7 separate regions of the Homo sapiens genome follow, and regions 2, 3, 4, 5, 6 and 7 are each linked to region 1. The links come from fine-mapping of genetic effects on gene expression. A gene starts in region 1. Each other region holds a variant in brackets. All regions are shown on one strand. Distances are between the middles of the regions.

Region 1 (4,434 bases):
AACATGTGTTAGAACCAGGACCTGCCGGGTATGGTGGCTCACGGCAGTAATTTGGCGCTTCGGGAGGCTGAGGTGGGAGGACCACTTGAGCCCAGGTATTAGGGACCAGCCTGGGCAACATAGGGAGACCCAGTCTCTATGGAAAATTTAAAAATTAGCCAGGCATGGTGGCACGTGCCTGTAGTCCCAGCTACTCAGAAGGCAGAGGTGGGAGAATCACTTGAGCCTGGGAAGTGGAGGCTGCAGTGAGCCACCATGTTCATGCCACTGCACTCCAGCCTGGGTGACAGTGTGAGACCTTGTCAAAAAAAAAAAAAAAAAAAAAAAGAACCAGGACCTGAACCCAGGAAGTCTGACATTAGAACCCAAACTCTGTCACTCTCTAGACATGGCGTCTAAATACAACATCAGACTCCTTACTTAATGAATTACTGGTTCCTCACTTCATCTGGGTGATGGTCCTAAATTTGGTACCTTTTTAGGTCTCCACCTGAGATGTCAACTCTCAGGGCAGTATTGGCCTGCTCCTCTCAGGTCCTCCCCACACCCTGTCTCCCTGACTGAGTTTCACTGAAACACGTTGTGACATTCAGCCCAGGTGTGCCAGAAAGCCCCCGCAGCACTGAGGGTGGGTGGGGGGACGCGTGGGGGGAGGTTGGGGGCTGGCTTCCTCTAGGGGCATGCTAGCTCTCAAGTTTCCAGCCTGCTTCTACACAGAGAGGTGTAACCACACACAAGCAGGACAAGAACACCACCAAGGGCTGGGTCGGAGCCTCACTACCCTGTAGTATCCTTAGGCCTGCGGCCACACCAACAGACATAAAAGAGTATTCAAGCTGCTCCCGATTCACAGTTCCCTCAGGAACTGGTCGTAGGAGAGAAACTGAGAAGGCATCACCTCTTCACAAGCAGCCCCTCCACAGGAATAAGAGGAAATCTGACTCCTCGCAGAGAAAGGAAAAAAAGAGAAAACAGAAAGGCTCTAGGATCCACTCCCCGTATGGAACTCGCCCGGCACCAACCAGTACCTGTGCAGCTATCACTCTGGGAGGCCCCAGCATTTGCTTTGCTGGCCGTGACAGTGGCACGTCCCATTGTGCTGAAAGCTGAAGCCAGCGGGTCTCAATTCCACCCCTGAGCTAACACAAGGCTTCTTAATGCTCCTTTGCCATGTGTTGATCTTGCAACAGAATGTGGGACAGAAGATTTAAAAAGCTATGTGATGGGGGAAGGGCAGCCAGATCACCTTACACCAGGGCTTCTCCATCAAGCTTCCTTGGATTCCCTTTAGGGGCCAGTATTACTAGCTTCAAGGGAGGTTTTCCTCAAACTGGCACTGTAAGAGCACGTGTTGCCTCCGGGGACCCGCTTGGGAGGGGGCTAGAGGGGAGGCGGGGTGCAGTCTAAAGAATGTAGGCAAAACACACATCATCTCACCCTGCAAGGGACAGCAATGCCTTACTCCAATCTGAGCTCCCCAAAGGCTCTGACAAGTGGAGGCGCCAGCAGGGTCCAGCCTGGGGACCCAAGGGCTGGAGGTTCTTCCTACAGAAAAAGGGAAAGCAATGGGGGAAACCCAAATTAAAGTGACCACCGCATCATGGGCTCGGACTGCATCAGAACCCAGTGATGTCCCTGGCTGTATCCATGCCCGCCAGCCTCCCCTAGGTCTACAGCGGATCAGGCAGGATAACCCTGGAGACCTCCTCCAAGCCCACAGCCCGCCCCACCCTTAGGGCCTGCAAATATTACCGCCACAGAGCCTTGTCCCTTTTTCACAGATGGGGAAACTGAGGCATGCGGAGCAAATTACGGTGCTTTTTCAAACCAGGTTGAAGTTCACTTCTCCAGCCACAATTTTGCACTTTTTTTACAGCTTTATTACATTTCCGATTTCTCCAGATACACAATTGCTATTGCAAAGTGAATTTTAAACACCTCGGAAGGACTGAACTCAAAATGAGATGAGGGCAGTCTGGACGTCCAATAAGGCTGTCTTGACCGCAAGAAGAGGATGGGTGCCCCCCACCTCCAGCTTATCCCCCACCCCCTCCCCGGGGACGTTCAGGTTCGGTCGCTTCCCTTCCCTCAAGCCGCTTCCACCGCAACCCGAGGGCGGGGGGCGCAGCAGCGCGGCCCCGGGATCGCCGGGCGGGTTCCGAGGTCCCGGGGCTGAGACGGGCGCCGGGGGCTCGGGGACCCTCCCCGGCCGCTGAGGTGGCTGCGGCCGCGCGCCCAGCTCGGGGGCCGGGAACTTCTGGCGGCGCGGACCCCGCCGCCCCCGCCGCCCCAGCCACCGGGCGTGTGTGCAGCTCGGGCTTCCCTTTCTTTGCCTCGCCGCGAGTCGGGCGCGACCCCGAGGCGGCTCGGCCACTCACCATATTACAGATGGAGGCGATGTTTCGGACAGTCATTAGTCTAAAGGTTGCAGCGATCCCTCACCGCCATCTTTACAAGGGGAAACCGGGACTGCCCATGGTGGCGCGCTGGCGGGGAGGCCGGGCGGCAGCGCGGCGGCCTGGGGTCCGGCTTTCAGTTTGGCTGGGAGAGGGAGGCCGGGAGGAGGAGGCGGCGGCGCGGGGAGGGCGGGGAGGGAGCGCGGAGGGGCGGGGAGTGGCGGAGCGAGGGAGCCTGGGCCGCGGCCGGCGGCGCGGGGAGGAGGGGCGGCCCGGGCGCGCCGCGTGAGTCCGAGCCGGCCGCTCAGAGCGCTCCAGGCTGGGTTCCCGGGCCCCGCCGCGCCGCCTCCTTCCCAGCTCGCCCGCCCAGGCCTGGCCTCCTGCTTTTCCATTTGATTCCCTGCCTCTTTCTATTCGGACTGGAATGCCGGGCCAGGCTCCGGGGCGCGCCGCTGCGGCAGCCGCACCTCGCAGGTCCCCCGGCCGACCCCGACGCGGAAGCGGCGGCCCTCCTCGCCGTCGGGGAGCCAGGGAGCCGGGGACGGTACGGTGCGCGGGGTGGGGAAGCGGGCGGCCCAGGCCGGGGCGAACCCGGGGCCGCCTTCCGTCCTCGCTTTTTCCTCGTCGCCTTCCTCCTGGCGGGCCTCGGCAGCCCCCGGTGTTTATTTTTTGGCGAGGGGTAGGGGTGGCGACGTCCAACTTTTAGTTCCTCCCGAGGGTTCCAACCAGATGGCACCGGCGGGGACCCAAGAAGTAAAATGGGGCGAGGACACCGGAGCGGTCAGAGAGCCCTCGCCAGCTGCGGGCCGGGCGCCCGAGAAAGGGCGCCGGGAAGGGGGAGGAATCCGGGTCTGGGCGGAGGCCAGCAGCGGCGCGCTCGGGCGGCTTGTGACATTAGCGGGTCCAAAGGAGACGTCCCGGTTCCGCGCAAGCACTAGGGACTGTCCAAGGAGTGGAAAGAACGAAAACAAAACTTTTCCATATCTTCAAGGCAGGCATACCCCTCTCGGGTGCACCCAGCCTCTAGTTGTTGAGATGGGCGCTGTATGGGATCATGCACATTTCCCGCATTAAAGGTCGTGGCTGCGGGCTCAGAGCGCGAGTCTGTGCACCACTTAGCAGATAGGTCCACGCGAATTGAAGGGGCCCGTTTCTGAATGTGTGGAACAGTTACACATACAAGGTTGCAATTCGATGCTTTCAAAGGAGAAATTGTACAAGTGAGATGCGTGATAAATTCTTAGATCAGTGTATTTAATGACAAATTGAATCAGAAGAAAAATTAGTTGAAGATAGCTTTTATCTAACCAAGAGTAAAGATTTGAGAGCCGTTGATTGCTAATATCCCTAGAATCTGGGGAGGAAACAGTAAGACAGACTTGTTGACTGAAGGTTTTGGGAGTCATGTCACTGTGTTTTCCAGTGGACATGAGAAATAATATTCCTGCTTAAGTCTTTCAACCTAAATATTATTTCCAAATACATCCTGATGATAATTTCTTCCATTGTAAGTCATGACTGATTTTCTTCTCTCTCTCTCTGTTTTTTAAGAGACAGGTTCTCGCTATGTTGCCCAGCCTGAGGCTGGGCAGCCCCGAGTCATCCCAAACTCCTGGGCTCCAGCAATCATCCCACCTTGGCCTCCCAAAGCGCTGGGACAACAGGCGTGAACCACTGCACCCAATGTTTACATTCCTGATCTCCTTTAATCGCCACCATAACTATCAGCTGGTACATGCTATTATCTCCTTTTTTGCAGATCAGTCACATAAGGCTTAGAGGATCAAGGATCCTGCCCAGATGACTTACCGAAATGTTACAGATTAAGTTGGTGTGGTAACCTGGGCTGAGCACTCTGGGAGAGGAAGAGAAGAGAGAAGACAGGAAACAACTGAACTATGACCAATCCCAGCACGGAGGCCCAGAAAACTTTAAGATTTGAGTATTAATGTCTCAAGGTCAGGAGCAACCTCAAGGCTAAAACTCAGATCTCAGGACTCAATTTCACAGAAGTTCCACTATAAAGGCAATAATCTAA
Region 2 (4,434 bases), 240 kb before region 1:
AGATAGCAGCGAGACACTGGGAAATGGCAAAGTCACAGGAAAGGTAGAGTCTGGGTGCCTGAATCCCTGCATTGAGGGAGGCCACTGCCAGAAACTTTGGACCATTACACTAATATGAAAGAAGCTGCTACTATATCTTATATGTTTTAGGGTTAATTTGTTACAGTTATTTAGCCTACCTTAATTAATTCACCATACTTTTATAATTAAAACAAGTAGAGCCGTGTTCAAGGTGACAAATGGCATAATGCTTCTCTCCTCTCCCTCACTAAAATGATGCCAAGAAATAACAGCAAGGACAGGAGGGGGCCAATCAGAGTAGGAGAGTGCTCAGCAGGTTCCCAGGAGGGAGGAAGCAGATGAAAGAGCACTGACCACTGAAGCAGGGTGGAGCATGCCACATCCAGACCCATTGCCCTGTGTGGAGAGAGACTGGAGTGTCTTTAGGGTTCTACCTGCTAGAGTCCCAGGGACACTCCAGACTTGGAAACTGCACGTGGTTCAATGGAGAACAAGAGTGAGGAGTGAGGTATAAAATTGGAGTGTTATTTAATGGTCAGTCTGTGGAACAAAATGACCCACAGCAACCCCTCCAATCCAGTGCTCAGAATGGCCAGCAGCCAGGCATTCAGCATCCCTAACCCCACTAACATGAAGAAGGTTATTCTCTAATGAGACCAAACATGCTGTCTAAGATTAACCAGGATAGTTAGTGTGAGTGTTAATGTCTCCAATAAACTGCATTCTGATGTTAAGAGGGGCTACCAGCAGAAGGGACAGCTCCCTTCCCACTCATCCTAAAGTGAAGCCCGTTGGCCAATAAGCTCTACTCCCCTAGGCAGAGCTCTGAGCCCTGCTGTTTATTGATTTTGACATGAATATGAATAAGTAAGCAAGGGTCTCCAGAAATTTGAAAACAAACTGTAATGTCAGGGAAAGACTAAGAGAAGCAAACTGTCAAGGAAACAGAAATTTAGAGAACCAAAGAGGTCCTTGCTGCCAAAATCCTACAATGATATTGTCAGAAAAATTAGAGAAGATACAGCATGTATGAATAGGATGCTGTGAGAAAGAGACAATCAAAGAACAAGAATGGAATTTTGGAAATTTAAAATGTGGTTACTGAGACAAATCTCCCATGGAGAAGAATTTCAGATAAATTATGTAGATGCTTCACCCTCAAGTTGGGGAACATAAATTCCCATTCCTTGAGTGTGGACTGTGCATAGTCACTTCCTACCGAAGAGTACAGTGTGGAAAGGGTAAGAGCAAGAAAAGCGTAACTCTGAAGTGGAGAAACTTAACAAACACAGTCTCAGCCAGGTGATCAAGGTCAACATCAAACATCATAAATCATGTTGATAGAATGTTCTATTGACATGGCGTGATGCAAATGGCACTTTACCACTGTGATCCTCCTCCCAGTAACTCACTGACCCAGTAATATCATGAGAAAAACATTAGATAAATTCAAATAGTGGGCCATCCTACAAAATATCTGATCAGTATTCCTCAAAACAGTCAAGTCATCAAAAGCAAGGAAAGTCTGAGAAACTGCTATAGTCAAGAGGAGCCTGAAGAGACAATGCAATTACATGTAATGTGGTAGCTTGCATAGGGTCCTGGTCAAGAAAAAGAACAGTAGTTAAAAGCTAAGGACATCTAAATAAGCTATGAGCTTTGGTTAATAATAATGTATCAATATAATATAGGTTTATCAACTGTGACCACTGTCACTTACTAATGTAAGATGTTACTAATAGGAGAAATGGGGTACATGGTATATGGGAACTCTTTGTATGGTCTTTTCAATGTTTTGGTAAATCTAAAACTGTTCAAAAAATAAAGTCTGTTTTAAAAATGTGGTTACAGAATTCAGAAAGTTAATAGACAAACTGAAAGAGAAAGCTGAGAAATTTTTCCAAACAGTGGTACAAGAAGATGAAGAATAGGGAGATAGCAGTGAAAAGGTAAGCAATAGAAATGATTAATTTAGTTGATTGACCTTTCTACTAATATAGGTTCTAGAAAGCAAAAATAAGGAAAAATTGATGGGAAGAAATTGTCAGAGAAAGAGTGCACGAACATTTATGAAATAAGACATGAGTATTCAAAGTGAAAGTCTATCCATATATATATATATGGGTATATATATGTGTGTGTGTGTA[T/TAA]ATATATATATATATATATATATATATATATATCAGGATAAATGAAAAAAGATTAATAACCAGAATGTCCAGTTGCATTGTTTGAAAAGATGCAATTCTGCTATCGGAGAAAAGAAAACAAATGGGATGGGAATGAAACACTTAAGATATCTTAAGTACAGATTATGTAGTAAGTGGAATATGTCTGTGTTATACATAGAAGGGATGGAAGAACCAAAAGATAATTAATATTCATGAGGCATTAAATATACATAAGGCACCTGGATACAAAATAGTCATGATATATTGAATATTCACCATGCTCAGTGAATACTCAGAAATTGCTGAATATACATAAGACAAGATGTATTTAGTATTCAGAGGCCTAATCCAACTACCCATTAGCAACACCATTTTGGCTTCACATGTCCTCTGCTCAAGAAACAGTACTGAAACCCACAGCTACTAAGCAGGCTAATTGGCTAGCTATAGCTATGGCCAGACATACCTGCCCTGCATCTCTCCAACAGGGCAAGTCTGTGCCATGGCCCTGGGGGGCTTCCATCTCTGGGCTCCCTGGCCTAAACACTATCCAACTTTGGTCCTACTAAGCTACCATCAGTGGGGAAGGCTGATGTGGCAGAGAGAGGGAGAGAGAAGAGAGAGACACATACAGGTTGTGTACCCAGGACCAGTAGTGTGGTTCTTCTACCCTGCTTGCAACCTTACTTAAGGGTTAACTTACATAATTGATTTCCCTTAGCTTTTGTCTTTATGCATTACATTTTTAATTGATTTAATAAGCTGTGTGATCCCCACATTTTTATTTGGTCTGCGAGTCTGTCTTTTCTGTCAGCCGTGCAGGAAGAAGTACACTGATGCTTTCTCTGCCAGGAAGTATGTTTGAAGGCTACATTGCATCTGAGCAGTTATTGACATGACAATTCCCAGGCACATCATTGTGGAATGTCAGAACATTAGAGATAAAGGAAAAATTGTAATGCTTTCAGAAAGATGAAAGAGTTCGCTTACAAATAAACAAGAATTACGCAAAAGGCTTCTCATTAACTGCAACTGAGGCTAAAAGACAAATAAGAAATGCCTCCAAAGAACTGAAAGAAAATTATTCGCAACCTAAAATTCTATACGTTACCAAAATATTAGTAAAGTGACATAATAAAATTATTGTCAGGTTTGCAAGGATCCTTAAAGTTTACCTCCTCCACATTCATTGTCAGAAGATACTTGAGGATGTGATCTGGAAAAATGAAAGAGTAAACGAAAAGTCAGGATGACTTGGGACACAGGAAACTGGAAAACAAGGGGCAAGGTTGTTTCCAGAGATATGATACTATGTGTGAGGCTTAAAAAGGCAATAAACACAAAAAGCAGGGGAGACAAGGCAATCAAAACAACAGAAAAAAAACAAACCTACATATGGTAGAAAAATGTAATCAAAGTGAACTATTTGACCCTGTAATGAGCAATCTGTATGTACTCTTAACAATGTAACCGTGATTTACTAACTTTGTACAGTTAGACTGAACCCCTAAACAAATCTTCATTATGCACACAGAAAGCAATCTAAATATTTCTGCCATGATGATGTTAGTGGAAAACTACAAATGGTAAAGTAGGGGATAAAGTGAGAGATAAACCCTGCAGTAAGAGTAAGGAGACTAATATTTTCATCTTATAAAAAGCAAAGTTGAGAAACAATTCCTGTATTTGATAATTCAAGAAATACTGATGTAAATATTTAAAGTTTCAAAGGTAACCAACATAGGAAAGAAAAAAGAATGTTGTAACTATTTGGGAATGAATGGCAGAAGAACTGCTTCAGGTGAGCTAATCCCTCATCTGTCAGAGCAGGAAATTAGTAGATAATTTCTAAAATTGATAAGGAGTATAGTTATATACTTACTGACATGGAGGAACCATGAGAAGAATTCAAAACAGATACTATTAAATGAATTACAAATAATCATCTCCTCTTCCCAAGCTGAACTTGGGAAGATTTTTGGCCAGAGACTGATGCATTGTGTTCCAAGTCCTTGTATATGGTACTTTCTTTTTCTTTTTCTTTCTTTCTTTCTTTTTTTTTTTTTTTTTTTTCTTGAGACAGAGTTTTGCTCTGTCACCCAGGCTGGAGTGCAGTGGTGCTATCACAGCTGACTGCAGCCTCAACCTCCCAGGCTTAAGTGATTCTCCCACCCCAGCCTCCTGAGTAGCTGGGACTACAGGCACATGCCACCAGGCCTGGCTAATTTTTGTATTTTTATAGAGA
Region 3 (4,434 bases), 49 kb after region 1:
ATACAGGGATATCTGAAGCTCTCTTCTGATATTTATCAACGATAAATATGCTGGTTTTTTACCACGCAAATGAAATTAAATTAGAGAGGGTAGAACTAAGGGGGGTTTAGTTTTGTTATTAGGGCTTTCCAACATTGGGGAAAAAAAGTGACTTAAATGCAGGTCTGAAGAAGACATTGGGATTAATGTGTTTGTGTGCAAGACTAAAAAAGAGGACGAGCATGTGATGTATATTTATCCCAAAGAGGGTGGAGAAAGGTGGCATTAAACTGTTCCTAGATGACTTCTCAGCAGCTTTATTGTCCAGAGAGCTTTGTGGCTGCTCAGAGTGTACAAATGGCAATTTTTATTTTGAGTTTGTGGACGTCAGGAAACCTTTCTGCCCATTGACCCCTCATCTCTGAATCTCTAAAACCAATCTTATGTTATATAGTGGAGGTTCCTGGGGCTCAGAAGCAAGCTTCCCTACCCCCAACTCCCCGTATTTGGCTGAGACCTTCTGTCTAGTTCTGGAAACTGGATTTTTCTCCTAGTGACCTATCAGGTCACTTATAGTCCTACCTGCTTTCAACAAGCTCACCCCACAGCAGAGGTCAGGTTGTTGAATCTCAGTTTGGTGGCTTGGGCCTCTCTTTCTGCTACTGTTCTTAGATAGCACAGACCCAGGAATTCAACAGCTGGCAACCCATTCCCACCTCTGCCTGTTTTTCAGCACTCAGTGGGTACCTCTTCTTGGGCAAGTTATTCAATATCTCTGGGTCTCAGTTTCCTATCTGTAAAATGAAGATCATCTAGTACATATATCTCAGTGTTAGTATGAGGAATCAAAAGAGACAATGCAAAAAAAAAAAAAAAAAAAAGCTTAGAACAGTGCCTGGCACAAATACTAGGTGTACAGTAAACTGGGCCGTTGCTGATGATTAAGGAAGAAGCCCTTGTGTAAGCATGGAGTTTCCTCCTTAGCTGTGCTGTGCTAAGGATGGTATTAAAGGATAGCCAACAATTCCCCTTTCTAGAGCATCTGAGCAGCCAAGGTAGATTTACCCTAAAACTGTTGAAGTAAAGTTTAGGTGTCAATTTCTTTATTTGCATGGGCCTCACCTAGGGCCCAAGAGGGGCTCTAACAATGTGTCCATGGGGTTGCATATTTTTGTAAAATTTTGCATTGTTTCTTTTAAGAAGAAGGACCACCCAAATTGTATAAGCTTTCACACCTCACAAAGGCTGGCTCCATTCCGGTATCCAAGTCACATGACACCTCTGGAGCCGCCAATACATGAGGTGGGTGCTGCCAGTAGTAGATTGATAAATAGATATAGAATTATAAATATGATCATACATGTACAAAAGGATGATTTGCAACACTGAATTTTGGGCCGGGCACAGTGGCTCATGCCTGTAATCCCAGCACTTTGGGAGGCTGAGGCAGGTGGATCACGAAGTCAAGACATTGAGACCATCTTGGCCAACTTGGCGAAACTCGTCTCTACTAAAAATACAAAAATTAGCCAGGCGTGGTGGCGGGCGCCTGTAATCCCAGCTACTCAGGAGGCTGAGGCATGAGAATTGCTGGAACCTGGTAGGCAGAGGTTGCAGTGAGCCCAGATCGTGCCACTGAACTCCAGCTCTAGCGACACAGCAAGACCACGTCTCAAAATAAATAAATAAATAAATAAATAAATAAATAAATAAAATAAAACACTGAGTTTGTTACTTATTTAGATAAGCCAACTTGTTTTAAAATAAAGAATATAAATTTCCTTCTATCTTTAGAATTGAATTGGAACTTGTACAATACCCTTAATAATAATAATTTGATCTAACCCCCCAAAATGCCTCCCTCACCTTGCTGCTTAATCAAATTTCACAACATCCTGTTATTTTTGCAAATTAGTTACTGTGCAGAATATAAACTATGTCTTGGCTCCAGGCTATGTTGTCTCCTCTATTCATTCTGGTGGCTTTTTGGGCCTTACCCTACCACCAGAACTCTATACCCTATAACTGACTTCCACAGCTGAGCACACTAAGATCTGCAGAAATTGCATCCCATAGCTCAGCAAAACACATTTTGCCATGAATTTAAAATAACCTCTCAGGTAATTGTCATCTTTTTTTCAGTAAAGAAAAAATTGCCAAAATTTAGAAAAGAAATACAATAGCCAAAAAATGAAAACATTCGTTCTTAATAGAATATTTGATAGAACAAAACCTTGATGCTAAGGACCAAACGAGATGTCATCTGAGTCACCCAACATATCCATATACTTCTGCAGATGCTTCTAGTGATTCCAGGTGACCTTCTCTGTACACCTAAGGCCCCTTTTCAGACTCCAGCCCTAGCTAGGAGTCAGGCAGGGGATGGAGAAGAGGTGATTGTCGTGGTGCTAGGACCATGTCTGCTGTGGGGGTGG[G/A]AGGGTAGACACAGGAGACAGCAGTGGAGGCATCACAAGAGATCATTCTTCTGCTTTCAGGTTGGTTGTTGCCTATGCCATGCCTACTGCCCGCTCTTGTGTTGTAGACAAGGGAGTGTCTCTAACTGTGGAAGGTGGGGGCTCTCCTTTTTTGTAAAACGCTATACTTTATTCCGATATCGTGTTCTTGAAGTTACTTACAAAAGGCTAATATAGCCCTTATTTTGTTTTCTGTAATGAAAATTATTATATCAGTAATACATGCTCTTTGTAAAGAATTTGAATGATACCTCAAAAATATTTTTAGAAAGTAAGACACATGAAATCCCATCACCTTGAGAGAAATACCACTGACATTGTAGTAACCATATTTTCACACACACACACACACACACACACACAAACTATACTTGTACATGTATATACATAGAATACTATACATATATACATACTATACTATAAATATATACATAGTATGTATGTATTTATATTATATAGCTACATACATATAGTTATTTAAGATTACAAGATACAAGTGGTTTTATCATAGATATTTTCTCCTTCCCTCTCACTCCTCTCCCCCATATCCTTCATCCCCTACCCTCTGGATTACCATATTAACAGCAGGTTGTGAGTGTAGATAGGTCTAGGGATAAGTAGGAGTTAAGGAAAAAAGAACAGGTGACAGGCAGCCCAGACGAAGAGAACACCACATGCAAAGGCAAGGAAGCAAGAGCTTATTAGAGCTGTGGCTCTTGAAACTTTAATGTGCATACAGATCACCTGGGGATCTTGTTGAAATATAGATTCCGAATCAGCAGATCTGGGATGAGGCCTGAGATTATGCATTACTACAAGTTTCCAGGGAATGCCCAGGCTGATGGACCACGCTTTGAGAAGCAAGGATGTAAACTATTGTGCAGTTCAATGTAGTATCTACCAGCCACATGTGACTTTTATTTTTATCTATTTATTTATCTTAGATGTCTTGCTCTGTCACCCAGTCTGGAGTGCTGTAGTGCCATCATAGGTCACTGCAGCCTTGAATCCTGAGCTCAAGTGATCCTCTTGCCTCAGCTGCCTGAGTAGCTGGGACTACAGGCCTGTTCTGCCATGCTTGGCTAATTTTTTTTTTCTGTAGAGATGGAGTCTTGCTATATTGCGGCAGCTGGAGTGCAGTGGCTATTCACAGGCACTGTCTGAGCACACTGCAACCTCAAACTTCTGGCCTCAAGGGATCCTCCCACCTCAGACTTCTGCCCACGTAGCTGGGATTATAGGCATACCACCACCAGGCCCAGCATGACTATTTAAATTTAAATTAGTTAAAAGTAAATGAAGTTTAAGATCCAGGTCTTGTGTTGTGCTAGTCACATTTCAAGTACTCAATAGCCACATGTGGCTACCATACTGGACAGCAGAGATATAGAACATTTCCATCACTGCAGAAAGTTGTATGGGAGAGTGCTGGACAGCATTCAGGGGACTGCCATTAGTTCAGCATGGTTGGATTATAATAGGTATGTGGGAAGTGAGAGGAGGAAGTAGATAGGTGGAGGTTGGTTTTGTTTCTGGTGGCAGTAAAGAGCCATTTAACAATTTCCAATGGAGATGACAGCAGTGTGGAAGAATTCATGGGGAAGGGAACACTGGAGACAGGGAAGCTGAATGAAGGTGGAGGCTACTGCAGTGGATGATGCTGAAAGTAAATGATGGAGCTAGAACTAAAGTACAAGCAAGGGCTGGAAAGAAGAGGCAGAGTCATGGTGGTCAATAGGAAGAACTGCCCGCATGGAAGAAGATGAGGAAGTAGGAGGCTGAGAAATGGAGGAGGAGACTGAGAAAGGAAAGCATTTGCGCTAAGTCCTGGACAGCTGGGCTAAGGAATTGTTATTCTTCAAGACAGAGGACACAAAAAGGAAGTGGAGGGGTGGAAGAAGAGAATAAATTCTGGGCCAAAAGAGTGATTTTGTGGTGTCTCTGGGAAATCCAGCTGAGAATATCTGGAGGGCTGGTGGGT
Region 4 (4,434 bases), 100 kb before region 1:
ATGTTCATTAATGAAACCTTCCCACAGGACTGGCCCCACGCAAAATCATGAAGCTAAAGTAGCTTGCTTTTTCTAACCCATCTCCACAAATCTCCCCAATTTCCCCCACCCCTGCTCCCCGACCCTACACATGCAATATTCAGTTTAATGTACAGAGGCACGTATTTTGCAGGATTTGCTTCCACATGCCTTGAAAAAGTGCCAGTTGGAGATAATAATTGTGTATACATGCATGTTTCAGTAAACTCGATAAGGCCAATTTTTCCTGTAGCTTTAAAACATGTCACTGAATCTCAGTTGAACACCTGATGAAAATGGCTTACAAACAGAAGTTGAGATGTATGAAAATCCTGAACACTGGAGACATTTGTTGTGGAGAGATCATCAAGGAGTGAGATCTTGCTGAGGGGCAGCGGATTCCTACAGCTCATCTCAGGCTCACCTGAAGGGTACATGAATTGAGCGGAAGGATGGATAGAGTTTGCTTGTTTGTTCATTTAACACATATTTTCCAAGCACCTACTTTGTGCCAGGCACTGTTCTAGGTGTTAATCTATGCTCACTTTGGGTTTTTGCTCAAATATCATCATTTCAAGAAAGCGTAGCCTGACTGCCATATTTTAAATTGCAATTTTGATTGCAGTCTTCCCAATCCCTTATTCTGCTCTACATTTTCTTGTTTCATAACATGTGTTATGTTTTACTACATACTATGATTTACTTCTCTATTGCCTTTTGTTGTCTTTCTTCCCCCCCCCAACTCCATGCCAGAATTTCTGCTCCACAATGGCAGGAATCTCAATCTATTTTATTCATTGATACAGTGCCTGACTCATAATAGGAATTGAATTGAATGCCCCGCTGGTGTCCAGAGAATCAGAAAATAGGTTATTGGTGTGGAAAACCTCCATACCTTTGAGGTCAGAAGTGTTATGAGGAGATACAATACAGCTCAACAGTACACATTTATTATCTCATCATTTCTGTGAGAAAAGAATTTGGGAGCAGCTTTTCTGGTTGGTTGGTTGGTATTGAATAGTTGGTGAATGAACTGATGAGTGCTGGCAGCATAAGAATGAATAAAACATACCAAATTCTCTGTCTTCTACAAATTCATTCATTCATTTATTCTCTCTCTCTCTCTCTCTCTCTCCCTCCATGCATATAGTTGCCATTCACTGGGTTAAGTCCAGCTATGATGCTATCACATTGTTCCGACCTGCAAATATCATTTCTTACAAATGCCCTGGGCAATCCGTGGCTTCTTTCCAGAGCAGCCTAAATGCCCTTGCTACAAAACCTAGATCCCTAGTGCACTGCATATTCTAATTTCCCATTTGTTTTTATGAAAATAAAGTTTGCCTTTCAAATGTAAATGCTCCAGGGCCCCAGTCAGGCTTCCTGAACTCTCTGCACAGCAGTACCTCTGGGTTTAGGGAAGAAAACAGATTTATTTTTACTTTCATATTGGTCTAACAACGTTACAACGCTATACACACTTTTGTCAATAAAGTTAAGATTACCACCACCCCCCTTTCCAAACTATGAAAAAGACAAAACTCATTACTCTCCAAAAGCCACATAAAAGCAAAAACATTCCACTGACAGTTTAATAAAAAACAGGACATGCCAAACAGGAAGCATACAGAGAATGACAACTGGGATTAAGCAAGGGGGCTGGAGAGGACAGATTAAAGATTCTCGGTGAGCACAATCAACAACAGGAATGTTTAAGGGAGGGTTGCATTAAAGTGCATGAAAATGGTAACTGACTTCAGTAATATCTACTGCCTTTCAACACAGATAATGACATTAGTGTATGAGATACAGAATAGACATCAGGAACTATTTTTCCAGGTAGAAGACAAAACGAGAACAAAAAGCCTTATATGTCAAGACCAACTGGGTACAAAAACAGTGAAATGAGAACAGAATGTGAATAGAAGGGGAACGTTGCTGAAACCAGCAATTAAGAGCTGTCTCAGGA[A/G]TTTAAAGGCGTGTTTTGGTGGGAGGCATGGAGCGGGAAGGGACACAAAAAAATCTTTGTGGCTTTGTTTCTTTTGCCGAGGGATGAAAGGCCAATAGTGGTTGGTCTTGCGAAGGAGGGAAAGAATTGTCAAACCTGCATTTCAAGGGCTGAGCTGTTTAACAAGGTAGCACTAGCCACATATGTGATTGAAGATTAAACGGAAATAATTTTTTTTATACTTTAAGTTGTAAGGTACATGTGCACAACTTGAAGGTTTGTTACATATGTATACATGTGCCATGTTGGTGTGCTGCACCCATTAACTCGTCATTTACATTAGGTATATCTCCTAATGCTATCCCCTTCTCCTCCTCCAACCCCATGACAGGCCCCCAGGTGTGATGTCCCCCACCCTGTGTCCAAGTGTTCTCATTGTTCAAATCCCACCTGTGAATGAGAACATGCAGTGTTTGGTTTTCTGTCCTTGCAAAAGTTTGCTCAGAATGATGGTTTCCAGCTTCATCCATGTCCCTACAAAGGACATGAACTCATCCTTTTTTATGGCTGCATAGCATTCCATGGTGTATATGTGCCACATTTTCTTAATCCAGTCTATCATTTATGGACATTTGGGGTTCCAAGTCTTTGCTATTGTGAATAGTGCCGCAGTAAACATATGTGTGCATGTGTCTTTATAGCAGCATGATTTATAATCCTTTGAAATGAAGTGTAAAATTCAGTTTCTCAATCACACCAGTCACATTTCAAGTGCTCAGTAGCCACACGTGACACATTGGACAGCACAGGGCCAGAACATTTGTTTCATCATTACAGAAACTCCTCTACGACAGCACTGCCATGGAGCATGGCAGGTAGGAAAGCAAGTTTTGGTCAGTATCAACTCCAGCTTTACCTGTGGTTCTCTTACCCCCTAAAGAGCTACAAACTCCTAATGTTAGAGTCTGCAAGGACAGTGCAACTGAAGTCAAAATTCTCATCACCCTTGAGGCTTCCTCCTCCACACACACAAATGAGGTTCAGAGTGGTTAGAATAAGGCATTTATTAAACATATCTTCATAAAGGTGCCAGAGATACTAAAGTGAATAAAACACAGATTAAAACCTCCAGGTACTTGCACCCTTCAGCCAGTAGGGTAGACATGAAAGAGACTAATGACATCAAGATGGTCAATATGGGAATAGAGATGCATATGAGGCACTGTAGCAAACTGGATTTTCAAACAAAAAAAATGGCCATGGCAATATTTCCAGTTTCACATGCCTTTCCAGATGCTTCCCTCTCCATCAAGAATGGGAATCCATTTCTTCTCCTTTTCCACCTAGAGAGCCTCATGACTGCTCAGACCTATACAGTAGAACGGAAGTGATGCTATGTGACTTCTGAGGCTAGGTCATATAAAAGACACACATTCCTCCCGGCTTGCTGTCTCTCTCTCTCTCTCTGCCACGTGAAGTGCACACCTTTGTAGCCCTCAGCCACCCTGTAAAAAGTCTAGCACTTTGAAGTTGTAATGCTAAAAAGACCATGTGGGAAAACAACAGAAATACAGAGAGAGATGCCCAAGGAGCCCCAGCTGTTCCATACTCCGGAGGTTTGGCCCTTCCCAGCATCAGCCAAGTGAGTGAATGTCCTCTCAAATGATTCCAGCCCAGCCTTTAAGTCTTCCAGATGAGGTCCTGTTAACACTCAGGGATGGCTGGAGTGTAGGCAGATGTAGTAAAGGTAGGAGTTTCATTTATTCATTCTCTTATTCATTTATCCAATAAATATATATATTTAACCCCATTGTGCCAGGCACCTGGCTTGTGCATCAGTTAAGATTGCTTTTGACTGAAAACAGCTGCACTCCCAAAAAAGTGGTTCAAATGCTAAGGACAAGTTGTCTATTTAATGAGAAAATCAGAGGGGAGCAGTCCCTGGAATATGTTGCTGTTTCCAGCTAGCCTCTTGCTATCTTTCTCCTTCACCAACCTCAGAATGTTGGCTTTTTATCTGAATGCCTCATGGTCACAAGATGGCTGTAATAGCTCCACGCATCACACCCTCTCAAGCTTCTCATGCCACATCCAAAGGCAGGAAGAAGAAGAACACCAAAGTTTCCTCTTGTGTGCTCTCAACTTTTATCAGAGAGAAAAACATTTATCTGAAGTTCCCACCAGCCAACTTCCCCTTATATCAAATCAACCAGGAGCAAATCACACAGCCATCCTAGCAGAGGGTAGATGAAACAGGGAGGGTGCTGGGAAAGTGAGTATCTGGCCTTTTCAGCTTCTATAGTGGAAAACAGACGAGGGAAAGGGGGATTGGAAAAATTAGGGGGAAGACAACCAGCAGGGCCTGCCACAGCGAGGCTCATCAAAGTAGTTGGGACATAATCCTGCCTTCAGAATGCCAAGGTAGGAAACATCCAATTATGCAATGCACAACCATGGAAAAGTATGGA
Region 5 (4,434 bases), 350 kb after region 1:
ACAAGAACAGTCTAGCAAACAGGTTTGTGCTTTTAGAGGCAGACACGCTAAGTTCTGCTGAATGTCAAGGCTGACTTGGGAATCCAGCTGCTTCTTACACTATAGCAATGAGGACAGAACATTCTTGGCGGAAATCCCTGTCCTTGTGGGCAAGCTGCCTTTAAACTAGACCTCCCAGTACCTGGCACAGTTCTGGGCTCACAGTAGATACTCAATAAACTTTTCTGAAACGAATAAATCATTGAATAAAGGATGAATAAGTGAACAAAGAAACATTTTGGAAGAGAAACATCTTAGGTATGGTATTGGTCACCTCTCTCAAGTGAAAGTTTTCATTCCTTTTGCTTCTTTTCCCATTTTGGGGCCGGGCTGGGGGGCGCGGTCCAGCCTCTCCAACATATGTCTTTACACTCTCAGGACGTTCCTCAGATCCCAAATACATAGCAGCAGGTAGTGTAATCAGTTATGTCCTTAGAATGGTGACAATTTAAAATTTCTGCACCTCTTTTGTTCCAGAAAATTCATGCCTTAAAAGACCAACGGCAAACTCTTCAAAATGCCTTCAGGAAATAAAGGTGACATTTGTTTCTATAGCGTACCTTGAAAAAGCATCCAGTTCAAACACTGTTCCAAAGCACTAGCTATGTCTGATTTCATATTTTACATTTGGACTTTATTTTCCCCCTAAAAAAGGCAGACATCAGAATATTATGTTTGCCAACTCATGAAACAATTGTTACTATTCTGTATTCTTTCTATGAGGATAGTATTATGAGGCTGTGCTCATAATAAAACCTTCATCCTAAATCTCTGTGCACCTTATGAATTTCACTGCATCTTTGCTTTTTTTTCCCCCCCAAAGAAGTCATTCAGGTTCCTTTAATAATACCAGTAAATAGCTCCAGCCTTCCACAGCTGCAGAGGTTTACTGTCCTGAGAGATTTTTCAGTGTTACAATTCATGCTTCCAATCAAAACAGTGACAGAGTTGACAGGATTTAGTGAGAAGAAGGACTTGATTAGGAACCAGGACACTACTGAGCAAATATTAAACAACTACAGGGAATTTCTAATATGCAGTGTTCTCTCTGTTCACAACAAAAACAAGCCAGAAACAATTTCCTGTGCTGCAGCTAAGTGAAATGGAAGTTTGTTTTTAAGGTTCCTTGTAGTGTGTTGTGTACATTTCAGCAAAGCCGATTTCACCTATGAGAGGCACTGGCTCCTTAAATAACTCCATTCTTCTCATTTCAAATAGAAACCAGCTGCACTTCTAAACTGTAACAAGAACACCTATCCAGGAGGTCAAAGCTGGAAGACACCTCACTGTGAAACGCTTCAAGCTTCTTTATCTGGGTTACAAGTTTGGTCTGCAGTGAATTGTCAGTGACAACCTGTGGCCTGGAATTTAATTCCTTGATGCCTTCATAACATTATTATTTCTTCCTCTCTAGAGGATAAACAAGTACATAATATACTATGAATTGGAGGCTGAAACCGACATTGATTGTGGGGAGAGGAAAAGGTTCTGGGAACACAAATCTGGGGATTTTTCATTGAGAATAAGTAATTTTGAAAAACCAGGTTTTAGGCTTTTTTTTTTTTTTTTTTAATAGCTTAACTCCTTCTATGGGTTAATTTGAGAGGACTCCATCCCCCTACTCCCTGCCCCACAAATTTCCAAAAACAACAGCAAGAAAGATCCTGGCAGAAGTCAAAGGGTCAATGGATCCTAAATAGTTTTCAGGTTCAAGTATGCACCATCAACAATGAGAAAAGCCCAGCCGTGTTATAATGACTCACCCCTTGACAAGAGATTCCAAACCGTGAAATCGAACAACTGCATATTTAGCCCTACGAATTGCATGGCTTACAAGTCACAGAGGGGTAAATTTGAAATAGGGAAAGGCTGGGATACCTTATTAGCATAAAATCTCTCTCTCTCTTTCTCTCTCTCTCTCTCTCTCTCACACACACACACACACACACAAAAGGCAGGGAAGTGGAGGCAGAGGCTGCACTGTGATCCTGGTCAAATAGGTTGGTCCTCTGTGAAGTGCCCATAATTCCAGAAGAACCCAGGGCTGGCTATTTGGTCCGAGGGGCCACTCTCATGGCCTGTTTGAAATAGTTCTCCTAACAGCAAGATTCAAAAAAGAATATTCTTTTCTCTCTTTATTTTTCTTTCATTCCTTTGTTCATGTAGGATAAAATTTTTACCTTTCTCTACCCCATTTCATTTTCTTAGCATTTCAGGAGAGATGAACCAGTGCTTTTCTGGTACTGCTCATCAGCATGTTCTAGCCAGTCGGCAAAAAAGGCATCTGCATTTATGGAGTTAATTGACATCTTATTAATTTTGCTCAGATTCTTTCTTTTACCTCCCTCTCCCTCTCCCCTCCTTTCTGTGTGTGTGTGTGTGTGTGTGTTTTTTTTTAAGAGAGAGAAAGCTAATGAAAACCATGTTTATATGCTCAAAGGCACAGAGGAAATTCATTACTCTGAGGAA[T/C]AGCACACTCCACAAGTGAAATGAAAGTAATCTTATTTATGACAGGAAGGGGCCCTAGCTAGACTGAACTCCACCACACTTCCACTGTTACATAGAAAAGGAGCTGCAGAGCTCCTGCACCAACTCCAAATGGCGGCCTCACTGACAACAAACACATTTGCACTCTGTGTTTGAAAACTGTTAGAAGCTCCAGAAAAACAGCCATCTAATAGAGACAAGGAAACAAAATCTGCTTAGAATAGGCCATTCTTCCTTTACACCTACAGTACTTTCCCAGGACTCCTTGTGACTAAATGTTACAAAGATATCTCATCAAATCATTAGCTGATGACATTTATCAAGTACTGGTAAATACAGCTATGTTAGTTTCATAGCCTTAATTCCCTTATTAGAAGAGTTTTTCACTGTAAATTCATGGGCCCTTTCCTGTGTAAATAAATAATGGAAGAACTTAAATAATTCCTTTCACTATAAATGTCACCTTGTACCCTTGCAGACAATTCTCCCTTTCCTTCTTGAAAATTCCTTCAACTGTGAGAATATTTCCTTTTTTATTACTTGGGATTTTGCCATGTGGCTTTTTTTCCTCATTCATTCAATTAGTCAACGAAAATCATTTAGCTGTTATGTTCTAGAGGTTGGTGGGGAGATAGTCTCTACAATTTCTGTCAAAACTACTCATGAGTACTCTTCAAAATCTTAATATTATGTGAAATGTTGGCAGTAATAAGGTAGTTTTATAACATTTATTATATGGCTTCTGAGAATAACTTTTGCTGGAACGTCCTCTGAGATCATTAGGCCCATCTCCTCATTTATAGATGAGAAATCAGGCTCAAGGGCAGATCCCAGACTGTATATCTCCTTATTAAAAAATAGTTTTTTAAATTCCAAGAAGCTTCACATGTTTACCACTGAAGGAAAGGTATTATTGCTTGGATTCCGTGCAGGGGAGGGATTTTATAGTCCTCCCATCTTATGAAAAGGCTTCAGTATAAAATAAAAAGGGTCAACTAAAAAATATCTGGTATTTTGAAGTCCCATACAGAGATGCTATATGAGAGAGCAACTTGGAATTAAATTAACTAATTTGAGTTAACTCATCTTTATTAAGCCTGAGGTGCTGAGCATGTGTTGGGTCCCGGAGAAAAACAGACATACACCCTTTGCCATGTGCAGGGGATGCAGGGAGGTAAATGGGTGGACCTGTTTACATTATGGTATGGTAGGCGCTATGATGTGGAAGTGCAGAGTGCTATGAGACAGAGGAGGCTTCCTCCAGGGTGAAAGGAGTTGGTATGGAGATGGAGTGGCAGTGATTGTTCCAGGCAAAAGAAACAACTTGTATAAAAGCCTGGAAAAGAAAGTTTCAGAGTTTTTGTGAAAACAGTGTTAGTTACGCACTGAAGGGGAGGTTAGAAAGGGATTATAGTCAGAGTCTCTGATTTTCACTGGCCACACCTAAAATCCATGTGTTCCTTACTTGCCTTGTCCAAGTTGACATTTTTAAGTGTGGTATGTAACATTTATTTGTACAGTTATTCTTCCCTGTCATCCAAGACACTATTCTTAGTTTTCCTTTGCAATACACAAAGGTGATTCACTCACCTTGAGAAGGCCCTGAATTCAGCTTATTCAGCATTTATCAAGAACCTCATAGGCACAACCCTCTCCAAGTGCTGCCTCAGCCCTCTGTGTTTATAGTCCTTGTTATAGCACAGATCACATGATATTAGGGCTCCTTGGGCTCCCCCGTGAGCTCCAGGAAGGACTGTCTTAGCCACCTCCAGAACTCCAGCACAATGCCAAGCATATAACAGGAGATAAATGCTTCTTGAATAAATACACGAGCTTGGTGGGATATACCTCAATTCTTAAAACATACTTAAATGCACCTTTTGAAAAAAACAGTGTCCTACATAGCTT
Region 6 (4,434 bases), 42 kb before region 1:
CCATAAACATTAATGGACTAATAATTACAAGTAAGAGACAAAAATTGAAGGAAGTATTTGTTTTTTTAAGGCAAGACCAATTTCTATGCCGTCCGCAAGAGCTAAACTTTATATATAAAGACACAGGTTGAAAGTAAATGGTTGGAAAAACGACATACTATGCGAAGAGTTAGCGTAAGTTTGTAGAGGGCTAATATCAGATAAAATAGGTTTTAAGATAAAGTTATTAAGAGAAATAAAAGAGGACATTTCCTAATGATAAGAATGTCAACTTATCAGAAAAACACAACAGTCAAATATGGATAGCCCCCATAATAGAGCCTCAAAAACACATGAAGCTGGAACACTATTTCACCAACAAAAGGGAATAAACTCCTGATACATGCTACACCACCAATGAATCTCAAAAACGTTATGTAAGTGAAGGAAGTCATACATAAAAGACCACATATTGTATGATTCCATTTACATGAAACATCCAGAAAAGGCAAATCTCTAAAGACAAAAAGTAGATTAGTAGTGACCTCAAATAAAACAGGAATTAACTGCCAGTCATGAGGGATCTTACTGGTGTGATGAAAATTTTCTAAAACTAGGTTACAGTACTGGTTACACAACTCAGCAAATTACTTAAAGAAAAAAAATCACTAACTGGATAGGTTTATGGCACGTAAATTATACCTCACCAAAGTTGTTTTTAAAAAGTCAAAAAATTCATAAAACAAAAATTGACAGAATTAAAAGGAGAAACAGAACAATCCCACAAAAATATTTTAATGCTCCTTTCTCAGCAACTGGTAGAAAAGCTAGTAGGGGGAAAGTCAACTAAGACATAAAGGATCTGAATAACTTTATCAACCAACATATCTAACTAACAATTATAGAATGCCACACCCAACAACTGCCAAATATTCTTTTCAACTAAGTAGTTCTCAACAGGGGAAATTTGGCTTCCAGGAGACATCTGACAATGTCTGGAAACATTTCTCAATGTTGTATCTTGGGAGATGCTACTGACATCTAGCAGGTAGAAGCCAGAGATGCTGCTTAACATCCTATAATGCACAGGGCTGTCCCCAACAACAAAGAATTATCTGATTCAGAATGTCAATAGTTCTGACACTAAGAGATCTTTCCTTTCCTTTCCTTTCCCTTCCCTTCCCTTCCCTTTTCCTTCCTTCCTTCCCTTCTTTCCTTCTTTGAGACGGAGTCTTGCTTTGTCACTCAGGCTGGAGTGCAGTGGTGCAATCTCAGCTCACTGCAACCTCCGCCACCTGAGTTCAAGTGATTCTTGTGCCTCAGCCTCCCAAGTAGCTGGAATTAGAGGCATGGGCCACCACACCCGTCTAATTTTTGTATTTTTCGTAGAGACAGGGTTTCACCATGTTGGCTAGGCTGGTCTCAAACTCCCAACCTCAGGTGATCCGCCCGCCTCAGCCTCCCAAAGTGCTAGGATTATAGGCATGAGCCACCGTGCCTGCCTGAGAGACCCTGTTTTCAAGGGCAGATGGTACATTTACCAGGACAGACCATGTGGAAGGACATAAGACATATCTCAATAAATTTAAAACTGAAATCTTACAGAATATATTCCCTAACCACAACAAAATTAGAAATCAATACTATTAGGATATATAAGAAAATCCCAAATATTTGGAAATTAAACAGCATACTTCTAATTAGTGTATGGATCAAATAAAAAAGATCACAGGAGAAATTAGAAAATATTTTGAACTAATGCCAAAGAAAACATACCATCAAAATTTGTAGCATGCAGCTAAACCAATGCTTAAAGGGAAATTTATAGCTTTATATCTGTATGCTAGTAAACAAAAGGGACCATTTTTCTACTTTAACTGCTATATCCTTAGTACCTAAAATAATTCCCAGCATTTAATAGGAAATAAATATTTACTAAATAAGTAATAACTGAACAGAAGACTGAACAAATGGAAAGATATCTAAATGACAACAGTGGCATCTGAGTGGCAGAATCATGACTTTTTTATTCATTTCTGTTTCTAATTTTTAAAAATAATCCACAGTATGTTCCTTAATTAGCAGAACTTTTTTCTTAACCTAAATGGCCCTTCTCTGAAATAAGAGGATTATAGCCAACTGAAACCATAAATAAATTAGATAGCTAGGATCTCATTCTACTTAAGCTCTTATACAAAGAAGGTAATAAAAACAAAAACATTTTGTCCTGTTGGATGCAAATCTTTTTCTGAACTTAATGGTTTTGGAGAGAAGGAGAAATGGAACAAATATAATTCATTAACTGAAAAAAGTCACTGTACCTCTCTCAATTCCAAATGCAAACTGCTACTAGAATTAGAGTGTGTGAAAGCACTGCTCAGAGGAATCACCCCTGCAGGGGCTATCAAAACATGGCGCAAAAGCTTTCCGTTTGGATTTTTCTCTCTCCTTGCCCTAGAATGACATAGTCAAAAGCAATTAATGATCAAATAATGTGGTTTTTTTGGGGTGGGGCGTGGAGGAAGGGTGTTGGTTTGGGGGTTCTGTGGGGTTTTTTTGTTGTTGTTGG[G/T]TTTTCTTGCTTCTCTCTCTTCTAAGAAAGCTGCCAGAAAAGAAAACCATTTTCTTCCCACACACAAGGATCTCATTCTGGTCTAACTGAAAATACAGCTTGTCTCCAAGGAAACATCTATCACTAAGAGACTCCAATACTCTTAGCAAGTACAAGCTATATCTTATTCTCCTTTCTTCTCCCTCAATTTTGAGCATGGAGGTCTCTCAAAAACTCTTAGTTTAAAAGCATAAAGAGACCTCATTTAATATTCTTTTTAAAGTAATTAACTACAAATCAGTTAGTAAAATAGATTACAGAAAGGGTATACCTTATAAATCATGAGCTTTGCTAAATTCTTAAGTAATTAAAATCATATTCAGGCCAGGCACAGTAGTGGCTCACGCCTATAATCCCAGTGCTTTGGATGGCTAAGGTGGGAGAATTACTTAAGGCCAGGAGTTCAAGACCAGCCTGGGCAACATAGTGAGGCCCAGACTCTACAAAAACACCTGTAATCCCAGCACTTTGGAAGGCTCAGGTGGGCAGATCATCTGAGGTCGGGATTTTAAGACCAGCCTGGCCAACATGGTGAAACCCTGTCTTTACTAAAAAATACAAAAATTAACCAGGCATGGTGGCAGGAGCCTATAATTCCAGCTATTCGGGAGGCTAAGGCAGCAAAAGCGCTTGAACCCAGGAAGCAGAGGTTGCAGTAAGCCAAGATCACGCCACTACACTCCAGCCTGGGTGACAGAGTGAGACTCCATCTAAAAAAAAAATCTTATTGAATAGCCAGGCATGGTGGTGTGCACTACTGTATTCCAGCCTGGGCAACAGAGAGAGACCCTAACTCTAAATAAATAAATAAATAAAGTCAGCTTCTAAATCCCCATATTCCTTTCTTGGGTTCAGTAGAAAAGGTGATGAGGTGGCTGTTCTGCACTGTTCAATCATGAGCCGAAAATGTGCTGGCTTTAAAAGGTACCCAATGGTGGGCTTTGGAAAAGTGCAACTACAACCAATTTGAATGAATCTCTGGAACTCAGAATCTCCACTGAGTATCACACCTCCCTCCATTACCCAGCCCTACTCCTATCTGCGAAAGCCTCAGAAACTCTACTGAATCAATTTGAACCTCTGCAAACAAAGCAATGAGGAGCTGTAAAATTGGTACTTAATAAAGCAGTTCTTAAAACAACCTTTTGGCTCCAGTAACAGATACAAACATGTTAAAGCCACTGAGAAGCACGGAAAAATCAGAGATTTGTAGAGCAAAAGCTCAGCTTAAATGGAAAGAGGGAAAATTAAAATAAACAGTGGCAAAATTAAGCTCCAACTGGGCTAACAAATCTTACGAACCAAACAAAAGAATAACCAAGGGAGCATGCAAGGCTACAGTGGAAAATCCCCAAGACCCAATTCTGAAGTGCCTTTATCAAGGTTATCTGGAAAAGTCAGCAATGAATTACCCCTTAAAATAGTCTCTCCAAGTCTATTGCAGAATGAAACTGTCTCCATAAATCCCTCAGTTGACATTTGCACTGCAATCATAAGCAACATTTACAAAGGGTGAGACCCAGGAAAAAAAAAAAAAAGAAAAAGAAAATCATTGTTTTCTGAAAGCATGAAGGCTGGCAAAAAGGTTTTCCAGGATTGAAGGAACTAGCAGCTGAGGCAGCAACAATGGCAAGGTGCCCCCAGGGGCAAATTTGCTGCTCAGGATCTAGTGCCATTTAATCCTACAGTGAGACTTCATAAACATGGGTCTTGGCAATTCTGACTGAAGCACCATCTAAAGGCTGTCTGCCCTAGGCAAAGGGTGTTACTCAAAAGAGGCTCCCTGTTTTTCATCCAGGTGAAGGAAATCTTTCCCATTTGGTCTTCTTGCACACTAAGTCCTCAAC
Region 7 (4,434 bases), 160 kb after region 1:
TAAAACAGTCTTTATGCTGAGCCTGGCACAACCTCCTGACCCACACAGTCGTGAACAATAAGAAATGGTTGTTGTTTAAGCCACTAAGTTTTGGGGTGGTTTGTCTTGCCACAATGTGTAACAGATAAATTCAATCTCAATCCTCTCTCTATGTTCCTGAGAAGAGTGTTAAAGTCAAGGAAGGGCCTTTTACTTTGACTCACAAGTCTACAAGACCTTCAACGCCTGGGTTAGATCCTCTTTCCTCTGTCTCCACTTGGCTTCATGTACCCAATAAAGAAGATTTTGATGTCCTCAGACACCAAAATGTCAGTGGATTTCTTTGGGTCTTGTAGTTATAGGTAACTTCCTGTATTTTTCAATTTTTCTAGAATTAGCAAAAATTATTTTAATAATGAGGAAAGATATACCAAAACTCTTTTTCATAACCGTGGCAGCATGGCAACCACTGTTTGTGGGTTGCACAGCAGCCACTCCCAGACTTTGTCTTTCTTCCCAAAGAGCCTGAAAGAACCAGGTGCTCATCTTCCCAGTCTCCTTTGGTGCTAGAGGCAGCCATGCAATCAAATACCAACAAGATGCCAATAGATACGAAGGTAAGTCTGCTGAGAGGCTTCTGACCAAGAGTTTTCCTTGTTGGGAAGGAAAGAAGGAAGGAAGAAGAGCTCTCTCTTGTTTTGCTCCTTCTGCGCCCTGCCTTTGGTTGTGGACACGTAAGATTGTGATGTTTGGAGCTCTTTAGCCATTTTGCAACCATAAGGTAATGGGTTTACAGTTTAAAAAACTAAAGAAAACAATCTACTCAAAAATAAAAAGGAGGAAAGAAACAGAGATTGAAAAGCACTTGGCTTCTTGATATCATCATTGGTTGCTGAACCAACGCTGAGACTTCCCGTCTGTTGACTACCTGTTAACTAATTGACGAATGTCCGTATAGTTTAAACCAGCATTAATTTTTTTTTTTTTTTTTTTTTTTTTACTCACAGCTGAAAGCATCCTAGCTAATACAGCATCTCTCTGGGTATTGAACATTCTCTTACTGGTACAATCGTCCCTTCAGTATACATGGGGGATTGGTTTTAGGACCACTGCATATACCAAAATCTGCATATACTCAAGTCCTTCAGTCAGTGCTGTGGAACCCATGAGTGCCAAAAGGCAGCCCTCCATATACACAGCTTTCATGTCTTGCCAGTACTATATTTTTGGTCCATGTTTGGTTGAAAAAAAACCTATGTATATGTGGACGTACATAGTTCAAATCTGTGTTGTTCAGGGGTCAACTGCACTTAGTTTTCCCATGCAGCTAAATTCAATTCTTCCCGCTGTAAATTAATCCTTTTCCCTCTTTTTTTGTCACAGTGGGGACAAGACTTGCTGCTTATCAATCTTTGCAGTAGAGGGAATTCTGTGGCAGGCAGCTATCAGACTTGAACTGCAATACCGGCTCTTCCTGGCTTTCCAGCTTGTGGGCCCCGCCTCCATAATCATGTGAACCATTTCCTTAAAATCAATCACCCCCTGTGACTTATTTATATATATATGTATATGATCTGTTTCTCTGGGGAACCCTGACTAATACAATGATCTAAACCAATTTTCTGTTTTGATTTTAGCTTTGTATTACGGCAATTTGCTATCTATCCAAAAATCAATAAAATAGAATTAAAAACTCCCATGCATCTAGCACCCAGCTTCAACAATGGTTAATTTGCAACTTTTCTTTCTCATGCTATACTCCCACCCACTTAACTACCTCCCATATTATTTCCAGGCCAACCCCAGACATTTTATCATTTTACCTATATACCTTTCAGTATGCATCCCTAGAAACTAATGACTTTTAAAAATATAACCACAATACCATTTCCACACTTAAAAATAATTCCTTAATATCATCAAATATTCCATCATGTTTAAATTTCCACCAATTATCTATCTCTTAAAAATTGGGGCTGAGCATGGTGGCTCACACTTGTAATCCCAGCACTTTGGGAAGCCAAGATGGGTGGATCACTTGAGCCCAGGAGTTCAAGACCAGCCTGTGCAACATGGTGAACCCCCATCTCTACTAAAAATACAAAACATTTAGCTGGGAGAGTAGTGGTGTGCACCAGCTATTTGGGAGGCTGAGGTGGGAGGATCACCTGAGCCCAGGAGGTCGAAGCTGCAGTGAGCTGAGATTTTGCCACTGCACTCCAGCCTGGGCGACCAGAGTAAGACCCTGTCTCAAAAAAAAAAAAAAAAAAAAAAAAAAAAGTTATACTATGTATCATTTTTTAAAGTTAATACAGAAGTAGGACCTACTCATTGAAGAAGTTTTGGAAAACATGAGAAAGCACATAGAATAAAAATGAAAATCACCTGCAGTCCCCACCAGCCTATAAGATGCCATTGTATGATTAGAAAAAGATGGACCTTTCCAGCAGGCACAACCTGTGCCAAGATGCCAGCCACCACTTATTGTCTCAAGTGGTACCCCCGCATCCTGCACAAACTGGGCCATTGTACACTCATGGCCCTGAATATTCCACCAGTGTTTACATTTTGAAGTAGAGCCTTCCAGATTGTTTATGGATATAGGCATAATTTTTGTATAATCAGTTCCATGCTATACATTCTGTTTTGTAAGCAG[C/CT]TTTTTTTTTTTCACTTAATAACAGACCATAGAGAGTGGAGCCAAGATGGCCGAATAGGAACAGCTCCGGTCTACAGCTCCCAGCGTGAGCGACGCAGAAGACGGGTGATTTCTGCATTTCCATCTGAGGTACCGGGTTCATCTCACTAGGGAGTGCCAGACAGTGGGCGCAGGCCAGTGTGTGCACGCACCGTGCGCGAGCCGAAGCAGGGCGAGGCATTGCCTCACCTGGGAAGCGCAAGGGGTCAGGGAGTTCCCTTTCCGAGTCAAAGAAAGGGGTGACGGACGCACCTGGAAAATCGGGTCACTCCCACCCGAATATTGCGCTTTTCAGACCGGCTTAAGAAACGGCGCACCACGAGACTATATCCCACACCTGGCTCAGAGGGTCCTACGCCCACGGAATCTCGCTGATTGCCAGCACAGCAGTCTGAGATCAAACTGCAAGGCGGCAACGAGGCTGGGGGAGGGGCGCCCGCCATTGCCCAGGCTTGCTTAGGTAAACAAAGCAGCCGGGAAGCTCGAACTGGGTGGAGCCCACTACAGCTCAAGGAGGCCTGCCTGCCTCTGTAGGCTCCACCTCTGGGGGCAGGGCACAGACAAACAAAAAGACAGCAGTAACCTCTGCAGACTTAAGTGTCCCTGTCTGACAGCTTTGAAGAGAGCAGTGGTTCTCCCAGCACGCAGCTGGAGATCTGAGAACGGGCAGACTGCCTCCTCAAGTGGGTCCCTGACCCCTGACCCCCGAGCAGCCTAACTGGGAGGCACCCCCCAGCAGGGGCACACTGACACCTCACACGGCAGGGTATTCCAACAGACCTGCAGCTGAGGGTCCTGTCTGTTAGAAGGAAAACTAACAACCAGAAAGGACATCTACACCGAAAACCCATCTGTACATCACCATCATCAAAGACCAAAAGTAGATAAAACCACAAAGATGGGGAAAAAACAGAACAGAAAAACTGGAAACTCTAAAACGCAGAGCGCCTCTCCTCCTCCAAAGGAACGCAGTTCCTCACCAGCAACAGAACAAAGCTGGATGGAGAATGATTTTGACAAGCTGAGAGAAGAAGGCTTCAGACGATCAAATTACTCTGAGCTATGGGAGGACATTCAAACCAAAGGCAAAGAAGTTGAAAACTTTGAAAAAAATTTAGAAGAATGTATAACTAGAATAACCAATACAGAGAAGTGCTTAAAGGAGCTGATGGAGCTGAAAACCAAGGCTCGAGAACTACGTGAAGAATGCAGAAGCCTCAGGAGCCGATGCGATCAACTGGAAGAAAGGGTATCAGCAATGGAAGATGAAATGAATGAAATGAAGCGAGAAGGGAAGTTTAGAGAAAAAAGAATAAAAAGAAATGAGCAAAGCCTCCAAGAAATATGGGACTATGTGAAAAGACCAAATCTACGTCTGATTGGTGTACCTGAAAGTGATGTGGAGAATGGAACCAAGTTGGAAAACACTCTGCAGGATATTATCCAGGAGAACTTCCCCAATCTAGCAAGGCAGGCCAACGTTCAGATTCAGGAAATACAGAGAACGGCACAAAGATACTCCTGGAGAAGAGCAACTCCAAGACACATAATTGTCAGATTCACCAAAGTTGAAATGAAGGAAAAAATGTTAAGGGCAGCCAGAGAGAAAGGTCGGGTTACCCTCAAAGGAAAGACCATCAGACTAACAGCAGATCTCTCGGCAGAAACCTACAAGCCAGAAGAGAGTGGGGGCCAATATTCAACATTCTTAAAGAAAAGAATTTTCAACCCAGAATTTCATATCCAGCCAAGCTAAGCTT

The links. PIP is the estimated chance that this variant, and not a neighbour inherited with it, causes the effect.
Region 2: its variant is fine-mapped to the expression of USP46 in whole blood (INTERVAL, PIP above 0.99).
Region 3: its variant is fine-mapped to the expression of USP46 in whole blood (TOPMed, PIP above 0.99).
Region 4: its variant is fine-mapped to the expression of USP46 in tibial nerve (GTEx, PIP above 0.99).
Region 5: its variant is fine-mapped to the expression of USP46 in whole blood (TOPMed, PIP above 0.99).
Region 6: its variant is fine-mapped to the expression of USP46 in whole blood (TOPMed, PIP 0.98).
Region 7: its variant is fine-mapped to the expression of USP46 in whole blood (INTERVAL, PIP above 0.99).

The regions. Positions count from the first base shown.
Region 1 is chr4:52,656,737-52,661,170 of GRCh38, forward strand. It overlaps USP46 (ubiquitin specific peptidase 46), which reads right to left and starts at 2,565. Exons shown (of 9, transcript NM_022832.4): 1 at 2,379-2,565. The coding sequence starts at 2,414. It overlaps USP46-DT (USP46 divergent transcript), which reads left to right and starts at 2,670. Exons shown (of 2, transcript NR_125363.1): 1 at 2,670-2,940; 2 at 4,156-4,434. RefSeq lists silencers at 2,019-2,538, 2,549-2,978.
Region 2 is chr4:52,413,934-52,418,367 of GRCh38, forward strand. No RefSeq gene overlaps it. Among named protein-coding and RNA genes, the nearest start is that of USP46, 240 kb to the right of the region's middle. The variant T/TAA (reference allele first, on the strand shown) is at 2,169.
Region 3 is chr4:52,705,450-52,709,883 of GRCh38, forward strand. No RefSeq gene overlaps it. Among named protein-coding and RNA genes, the nearest start is that of DANCR, 4.7 kb to the right of the region's middle. The variant G/A (reference allele first, on the strand shown) is at 2,415.
Region 4 is chr4:52,553,519-52,557,952 of GRCh38, forward strand. No RefSeq gene overlaps it. Among named protein-coding and RNA genes, the nearest start is that of USP46, 100 kb to the right of the region's middle. The variant A/G (reference allele first, on the strand shown) is at 1,988.
Region 5 is chr4:53,010,410-53,014,843 of GRCh38, forward strand. All of the region lies in intron 5 of SCFD2 (sec1 family domain containing 2), which reads right to left. Among named protein-coding and RNA genes, the nearest start is that of SCFD2-AS1, 85 kb to the left of the region's middle. The variant T/C (reference allele first, on the strand shown) is at 2,509.
Region 6 is chr4:52,615,190-52,619,623 of GRCh38, forward strand. All of the region lies in intron 4 of USP46 (ubiquitin specific peptidase 46), which reads right to left. Among named protein-coding and RNA genes, the nearest start is that of USP46, 42 kb to the right of the region's middle. The variant G/T (reference allele first, on the strand shown) is at 2,549.
Region 7 is chr4:52,813,791-52,818,224 of GRCh38, forward strand. LINC01618 (long intergenic non-protein coding RNA 1618) reads left to right here. Exons shown (of 5, transcript NR_040106.1): 5 at 1,363-1,674. Among named protein-coding and RNA genes, the nearest start is that of LINC01618, 26 kb to the left of the region's middle. RefSeq lists enhancers at 2,393-2,998, 2,999-3,603. The variant C/CT (reference allele first, on the strand shown) is at 2,636.